Linked DNA regions of Homo sapiens. The protein of the gene in region 2 interacts with the protein of the main gene of each other region in a pairwise test. Each region holds a gene or a part of one and is shown on either strand. Other genes may lie near its edges.

What was found. The genes of interacting proteins can lie anywhere in the genome.
Region 1: the proteins of KXD1 (region 2) and LRRC45 interact in binary tests that used the Homo sapiens proteins (3 or more experiments, as listed by UniProt).

Annotation. Positions count from the first base shown.
Region 1 is NC_000017.11:82,021,956-82,026,104, reverse strand, and holds the start of LRRC45 (leucine-rich repeat-containing protein 45), read right to left. Parts: upstream 2,801-4,149; 5' UTR 2,462-2,800; coding exon 2,242-2,461; intron 1,828-2,241; coding exon 1,766-1,827; intron 1,413-1,765; coding exon 1,342-1,412; intron 1,106-1,341; coding exon 927-1,105; intron 727-926; coding exon 598-726; intron 1-597. Other genes in the region: CENPX (centromere protein X), read left to right, coding at 3,244-3,279. UniProt on the Homo sapiens protein: Component of the proteinaceous fiber-like linker between two centrioles, required for centrosome cohesion.
Region 2 is NC_000019.10:18,564,370-18,567,869, reverse strand, and holds part of KXD1 (kxDL motif-containing protein 1), read right to left. Parts: intron 3,002-3,500; coding exon 2,849-3,001; intron 2,737-2,848; coding exon of another isoform or gene 2,676-2,736; exon of another isoform or gene 2,661-2,675; intron 739-2,660; coding exon 692-738; intron 1-691.

The sequences.
Region 1 (4,149 bases), on a different chromosome or scaffold from region 2:
CCAGCAGGAGGGATGAGCCCTCAGCACAGGGGCTGGAAGAGGCTGCCGCTGTGCGCGGATTAGGGAGTACGGGGGGCCTGGCAAAGTCCCCAGCTGAGTCTGGGGCACTGGGGCCTGAGGCTGAGACATCAGCTGCAAGGATTCGGGGTCGCTGGTGGGAGGGAATGTGTGGAGGCCAGCACAAGCCAGGGGGCCCCACCTCACCTGACTCACATGCAGGGCCACAGACTCAGGGTGACCAGGGAGCCTTCCTGGCCAAGGCCAAGACCTGGGCCACCCGAAGCATCAGCAAAGCCACCAAGGCCAGGACTGTGAGCCACACGGCCTCAGCTTCCCCAGCTGTGAAACGGGCACCCTCCACTGCACAGGTCCTAAGAACTCAGCAAGTACACAGGGCGCCTCGGACAGTGCCCATGTGTGGCGAACGCCATTCAAGTGCCAAACAGGTGCCCCACGACCCCTCCGCTCCTTCCTGCTTCCCCTGGGCTCTCAGGCTGCTCTCCTCATCAGTTCCCGTCCTGAGCCCGGCACCCCGCCCTCGGTGGACAGGCCTCTGTCAAAGGCTCACGCGTCACTCCACACAGCCCTGCACCGTACCCACGGCTCTGAGGACGTCTCCAGGGATGTTGTTCCCAGCCAGGTCCAGTCTCCACAGGGTTCTGTTGCTGGGGAGACAGTTCATGAGGGCCCGGCCCCCCAGGAGGCCAACGTTATTCCAGCGCAGGTCTGGAAGGAAACCTGTAGTCACCAGACAGAATGCACCTGGCAGAGGGGGAGCTGGCCTGGCCGGGGTGCTTCCCTAGGGGGCACTGCCTTGCAGTCATCAACAGAGCAGGAGCACAGGCCAGTCCCCTAGCCCCTCACTTCCCAGAGCAGAGGCAGCCTCAGAGGGATGAGGGAGCCTGAGGGCGCCTGGGAGGCCTCACCCAGCTGCTGGAGGGTGGTGTTGCCCTTCAGGGCTAGGGCCAGCTCCTCCGCGCCCTTGTGACTGATCTGGTTGTTGCGGAGGTCCAGCCGCTGCAGGGCGCCGTTGGCCGCCAGGCCCCCGCAGAAGGTGGCGAAGGCATCGTCCCACGTGCCCAGGCTGTTCCACTCCAGCGTGAGGCTGCAGGAGGGGCAGAAGCCAGTGTTCACCTAGGGGACTGCCTAGCCCGTGGGGTCCAGGGCTTGGGGACGGGTGTGGGCTTGGGGTCTGATGGGCCGGAGCCTCTGCCTACCCCTGCCAACGTATGTGAAACATGGGCACCTGGCAATGGGGAACTCTTGGGCTGCAGAAGCATGTGCTCGGGGCCAATCCTCAACCACACAGAGACAGGGCCTGGGGTCGGGACCACCACCCACCTCTGAATGGACTTGTTCTGTTGGAGGAGTTTTCCCAGAGCCTCGGCCCCTGCAGCCCGAAGGTTGTTGCCCTAGGAGAGAAACAGGCCGGTAGTCACTCGCGTGCCCTGACTGGCTCTGAATTCCCGCCCATGCCCCAAGGGCCTTGGTCAGCCAGGGGACAAGCCTGGGGTGCACCCTGCAGCCTTCCTCAGCTCCTGGGCTCCCTGTCTTCAGGGGGCTTCCAAGGGCCGGCTTGTTTGCCAATGTGAACTCTTGCTCTGGAGATGGTCACACACAGGAGGCCATCAGAGAGCGGCCTGGGGACTCACAGACAGCTTCCAGCCACCTGCCCAGACCCCAGGCCCCCGAGACCTGGCATCTTCCACCTCTCCTCTTGCCCTTGGGTGGCACACTCGGACACTCAAGAGTGCAGGTATCTCACCTTTAAGTCCAGAAAGCGCAGCACGGTGTTGGCACACAGGCCTCGGAGCAGCAGTGTGGCCCCTGTGTAAGGGGGGCCGGCGGTCACTCTCTGCCCCTGCTGACCCCAAGGCCCTCCCCGTGGGCCCCTTTTCAGGGCAGCTCCCTAGACCCAGGAAGGGACAACTGTCCCGATGGTCTGGGTTGGCGCTGGCCAAGAGTCTCGCTGCGAAGTCATGTTTGAAACACCTGCAGCCCCTGCCAGGCACCAAGCCGGCTCTGCACGCGGGGAACCAGGTAAGACCGCGAATGTTAAGGCCTCTCCCCCGTCATACAGAGGAACTGCCCTCTACTCCCAGGTGCAGGAAGGGGCGCCCCTGCTCGCTTTAACTACGGCACAGAAATTGGAGAGCCTGGAGAGGAAGCGACCTCGGGCTGCCGAGGCAATGGTGTGGGCAGCTAAGGAGCAGAGGGATCCACCCCGCCGCGCCTGCCCACCTTCCTCGCTGAGCATGCAGTCACTCAGGACCAGCTCCGTGCACAGCGTCTCCCTCGGCAGCAGCTTGCCCAGGGCCCTGCAGGTCTCCACCGTCAGGCTTTGCGTGGCCAGGTCCAGCCGGCCCCTGGGAAGCTGGTGCAGCTGCTGCAGGACAGCCTCCTGGGGCTCGGCCCCACTCTCCCTGCACAGGCGGCTGTAGGAGCGCCGGAACTCCTCCATGACCCGCGGGGCCGGCAGGGCCTCCTCCGCATGCTCCCGCAGCTGCTGAAAGGGAGCCGCGCGGTGCGGAGCAGTCCCAGCGCCGGGTACAGGAGACGGGGCCTCCGCCGACCCGGGCGGAGAGCAATCCGAGTGGGCTCCGCGGGCGGGAGGTCCTGGGAGCGCGGGGCTGGGCGGTAGTCAAGGTCCGCTTTGGGCTGGGGCCCCGCAGTGCTTGGGGACCACCCGTGCAGGAAGCAGGCAGGTGCGTCGCGCGCCCCCACCCAGCCCTGCCCCGCCTGCAGCCCCGACCCCCGCCCTCGCGACAGCCGCGTCGGGGCCTCAGTATCCAGGAAGAACAAGGCGCGCCGGGAGAGGCCGCGGGAACTACAACTCCTAGCAGGCTCTGCGCAGGCAGCGCTTGGTGCGGGCCAATGAGAACAAAGGAACTGGCGCGCCTTTCGGGCCGCAAGCTGAGAGGGGGCAGCGCGCTCCAGGTTCATTGGCTAGGGGCATGAGGGTGGGGCCCCGGGAGGGCATGCTCCGGGCTCATTGGCTGAGGGTCGTGAGGGTGGTGCCCCGGGAGGGCGCGTTCCAAGTTCATTGGCTGCGGGACGTGAGGGAGGGGCTGCTGGAGGGCGCGCTCCGGGCTCATTGGCTGAGACGTGGGGGCGGGGCTCCGAGAGCAGGCGCTTCGGACTCATTGGCTAGGGGCGCGGGGCGGGGCTCCGGGGGCGCGCTCCGGTCTCATTGGCTGGAGGCGCGGGGCGGGGTTCCGGTGGGCGCGCGTTGAGGCTGCGGTCATGGAGGGAGCAGGAGCTGGATCCGGCTTCCGGAAGGTGAGGGCCGGAGGGCAGGGGCTAGGCAGGCGCGGACGCTCCGTCCCGACCTCACGCGTGACACTGTGAGGGCCAGACGCCAGCCCCCGCGCCGCCCCCTGTGCCTTTGAGGTTGGGCCCGTTCTCAGACTCCATCTCCGGCCGGGCCGCGCGCCCCGCGCCCTCGTGGGCTGGTGTCTCGCAGCTGGTAGGAGGGGGCGTGGAGCAGCCGGGGCTGCGGGAAGGTGGAGAGGGTCTGCAGAAACAGGCAGGGGTGGGCGCCGTCACGGCGGAGTCCAAGCCGGCGAAGAGAGAGGAGGAGCTGGGCCGCCGCCCTGCGCCCTGAGCCTGGGGTCTTTTGTTAAGGGGAGATGAGGCCCCAGGACGGGGACAGTGAGATCGTCCAGCCCGAGGAGCCGGCAGGACCTACCCCAGCCGCCAGGCACAGTGGTTTCCCTTTTGTTTGCTCCCCGGTGGGCGCCAGCACTGGGCTAGGAACGCGTGGTTTCTTCGGTGCTCCACGTTACACACACTTGACAGGGATTAACCCCACCTGCCAGTGGAGAAACTGAGGCACGGGGGCGTTAAGTGACTCAGCAGGGCTAGGGTCAGACCTAGGCCGTCTGAGCCAGGATCCGCCCAGGCTGGAGGGCGTGCCCTGCTCTTCCCTGTTCCTGGAAGTGGAGCTCTCTGGGGGTGCCATGTGCAGAGGACCCCATCGGTGCAGGCAGAGTGGTTTCTGAACCTTTCTACTGCTCTACCTGAAGGTTGGGGCACCGAGCTTCCTCGATGTCAGCAGGGCCTCGTGGGCCTCTGTGGCCTGGGAAGGGAGGGTCTCAGGCCCTTGTGAACCCATCCTGGAGGGAGGACTTCAGCCCTGTAGAAGCAGGG
Region 2 (3,500 bases):
CCTGAGGGCGAACCTGGCTCACTGCACTACCTGGGCTAGGTATATGACCTCCCCTCAGCCCAGCTCCCTGCTCTGTAAACTGCTGTTGGAGGCCCTGGGATGGAGAGCTGTCGGCCTTTTCAACAGATGGTGTGAACCCAGGCTCAGCCTGCAGAGCCCTTTAAGGTGGTGGCAACATGGAATGGTACCCCAGAGAACACGCGAGCTCTCTAGCCAGACAGATGCGAACTCAAGTCCTGCCCCTCTGGGCCTCTGTTTCCCTCTCCATGAAACGGTGATACTCACAGTCCCCACCCCATGGGTGACTGTGGGTAACAGCTGGACATGGGACAGATCCTCGAAGCTGGGGCTCAGGGAAGGCGAGACGATGTCGGGGCTGGTGTCACATGAGCCCGTGCTCTGTTCTGAGATGGCTCATAATGCACACAGGGATAAGGATTGTCATGCTGCTTATCCACATTCTCCTGTGCGGCCTCCCCACGGGGCACGGACTCCCGTCCTAGTGCCCACTCTGCCAGCTGCTGACAGGACCAGGCCAGCACCCTGACCCTGCCCCCACCCCAGGTTTCCCCAGACCCACTGCCCATTACAGCCTGGTCTCAGTATCAGGCCCCAAGGTGGCCTTCCAGAAGCCTGCCCTGGGTGGAGAGTGCTGACGTGCTCGGGAGCAGGAACCCTGCGTGACACTTACGGCTGAAGGCCTCTGGGTGCTGCCTGGCCAGTTTCCCTTTCAGCGTCCTGCAGGGGAGAGAAGGCACACAGGGCTTAACCTGCTGAGCAGGTAGGCTGGGCCTGGTGCTGGCCACAAGCCCCTGCTGCCAGCTGAGGGCAAGGGGAGACGGGAGTGAGAACCCCCACACTGTTCATCACCTCACATCTTCACTCTCTCTAGGTGCTCGGCCCAGCAGCCACGGCCCTGACAGTCGCCCACCAGCCGGCCTCCAGCCCCAAGGTAGGCACCAACCCCCAACTAGTTAGACTCTGGGTGCTCTGAGCCTAGGCACTGGCTGGGGGCTCCCCCTGCGAGGCTGCTTCTTACATGTGGCCTCTTCTCTGATAAATTTTTTTTTTTTTTTTGAGACAGAATCTCACTCTGTCGCCCAGGGTGGAGTGCAGTGGTGCCATCCTGGCTCACTGCAACCTCCACCTTCCGGATTCACATGATTGTCCTCCCTCAGCCTCCCAAGTAGCTGGGATTACAGGCACGTGCCACCATGCTCAGCTGATTTTTTTGTATTTTTAGTAGAGACGGGATTTCATCATGTTGGCCAGGCTGGTCTCAAACTTCTGACCTCAGGTGATCTGCCTGCGTCAGCCTCCCTAACTGCTGGGATTACAGGCATGAGCCACTGTGCCCAGCCATTCCTGCCTTTTCATTATGTGTCTAGCACTATGTTACTTTTTTTTTTTTTTTGAGACGGAGTCTCGCTCTGTCGCCCAGGCTTGAGTGCAGTGGCGCGATCTCGGCTCACCTCCTGGGTTCATGCCATTCTCCTGCCTCAGCCTCCCGAGTAGCTGGCAATACAGACGCCCACCACCACGCCCAGCTAATTTTTTGTATTTTTAGTATTTTTTGTATTTTTAGTAGAGACGGGGTTTCACCATGTTAGCCGGGATGGTCTTGATCTCCTGACCTCGTGATCCGCCTGCCTCGGCCTCCCAAAGTGCTGGGATTACAGGCATGGGCCACCTCGCCCAGCCGCACTGTGTTACATTTTTTAAGAATAAATAAACTGCAAGGCTGGGCATGATGGCTCATGCCTATAATCCCAGCACTTTGGGAGGTCGAGGTGGATGGATCATCTGAGGCCAGGACTTCGAGATGAGCCTGGCCAACATGGGGAAACCCTGTCTCTACTAAAAAAATACAAAAATTACACAAAATACAAAAATTAGGCTCACACCTGTAATCCCAACACTTTAGGAGGCCGAGGCAGGCAGAGTGCTGGAGCTCAGGAGTTTGAGACTAGCCTGGGCAACACGGTGAAATCTCGTCTCTACTAAAATACAAAAAATCAGCTGGGCGTGGCAGCATGCGCCTGTAGTCCCAGCTACTCAGGAGGCTGAAGCAGGAGAATCGCTTGAACCTGGGAGGCGGAGGTTGCAGTGAGCTGACATTGCACCACTGCACTCCAGCCTGGGCGACAGAGCAAGACTCCACCTCAAAAATAAAACAACAACAACAAAAATTAGCTGGGTGTGGTACAGTATGTCTGTAGACCCAGCTACTCAGAAGGCTGAAGCACAAGAATCGCTTGAATCCAGGAGGCAGAGGTTGCAGTGAGCCAAGATCACGCCACTGCACTCCAGCCAGGGCCACAGATCAAGACTCTGTCTCGGCCGGGCGCAGTGGCTCACGCCTGTAATCCCAGCACTTTGGGAGGCCAAGGCGGCTGGATCACGAGGTCAGGAGATCGAGACCATCCTGACTACTAACACGGTGAAACCCCATCTCCACTAAAAATACAAAAAATTCTCCAGGCGTGGTGGTAGGCACCTGTAATCCCAGCTACTCCGGAGACTGAGGCAGGAGAATGGCGTGAGCCCGGGAAGCGGAGCTTGCAGTGAGCTGAGGTCGCGCCACTGCACTCCAGCCTGGGCAACAGAGCGAGACTCCGTCTCCAAAAAAAAAAAAAAAACTCTGTCTCGATCAATTAATCAATCAGTAAATAAACTTACGTCAAGATTTTATCCCAGGGTTGGAATTGTCCCAGACACTTAAGTGCGCAGTGAAGCCTTGTAAAACAAACAGAAATCTCCCTTTACCCTGGTATGTGAAGGAAACTGAGGCTCAGATGGGGAGGTGGAGGCAGAGGTCAGCTGGGCTGGGGTGGCACTGAGCACCCACCTGATACGGCGGAAGATGCTGTCCAGGTCCCGTTTCATCTCTACTAGGGTCCTCGTGTGGTGCAGGAAGCGTTCGCTCATCTGCTGCAGGCGGGCACTGGACAGGTTGTTGAAGTTGAGCAGCATCTCATTGGTCTTCTCAAAGCGGTCCAGCCTGATGGTGGAGAGAGGGCATGAGCTTCACTGCCCAGCTTCAGGGCCCTGCCCAACCTGGCCCAGAAGACTGTTCATGCCAAGCCCTTGCCTGCTTCACAACCTTTGCATGGGCTGTTCCCTTGTCCTGCAGAGTTCTACCTACTCTTTGAGCCACCTAGCAAACTCCTATTCAACCTTCAAAACCCTACTCAAGTGTGTCCTTCTCATGTAGCCTTGTCTACCTCTATTCAGTCAGACTTTTTTTGAGACAGAGTCTTGCTTCGTCACCCAGGCTGGAGTGCAGTGGCGCGATCTCGGCTCACTGCAAGCTCCGTCTCCCAGGTTCATACCATTCTCCTGCCTCAGCCTCCCGAGTATAGCTGGGACTACAGGCGTCCGCCACCATGCCTGGCTAATTTTTTGTATTTTTAGTAGAGACGAGGTTTCACCAGGTTAGCCAGGATGGTCTCGATCTCCTGACCTCGTGATCCACCCACCTCGGCCTCCCAAAGTGCTGG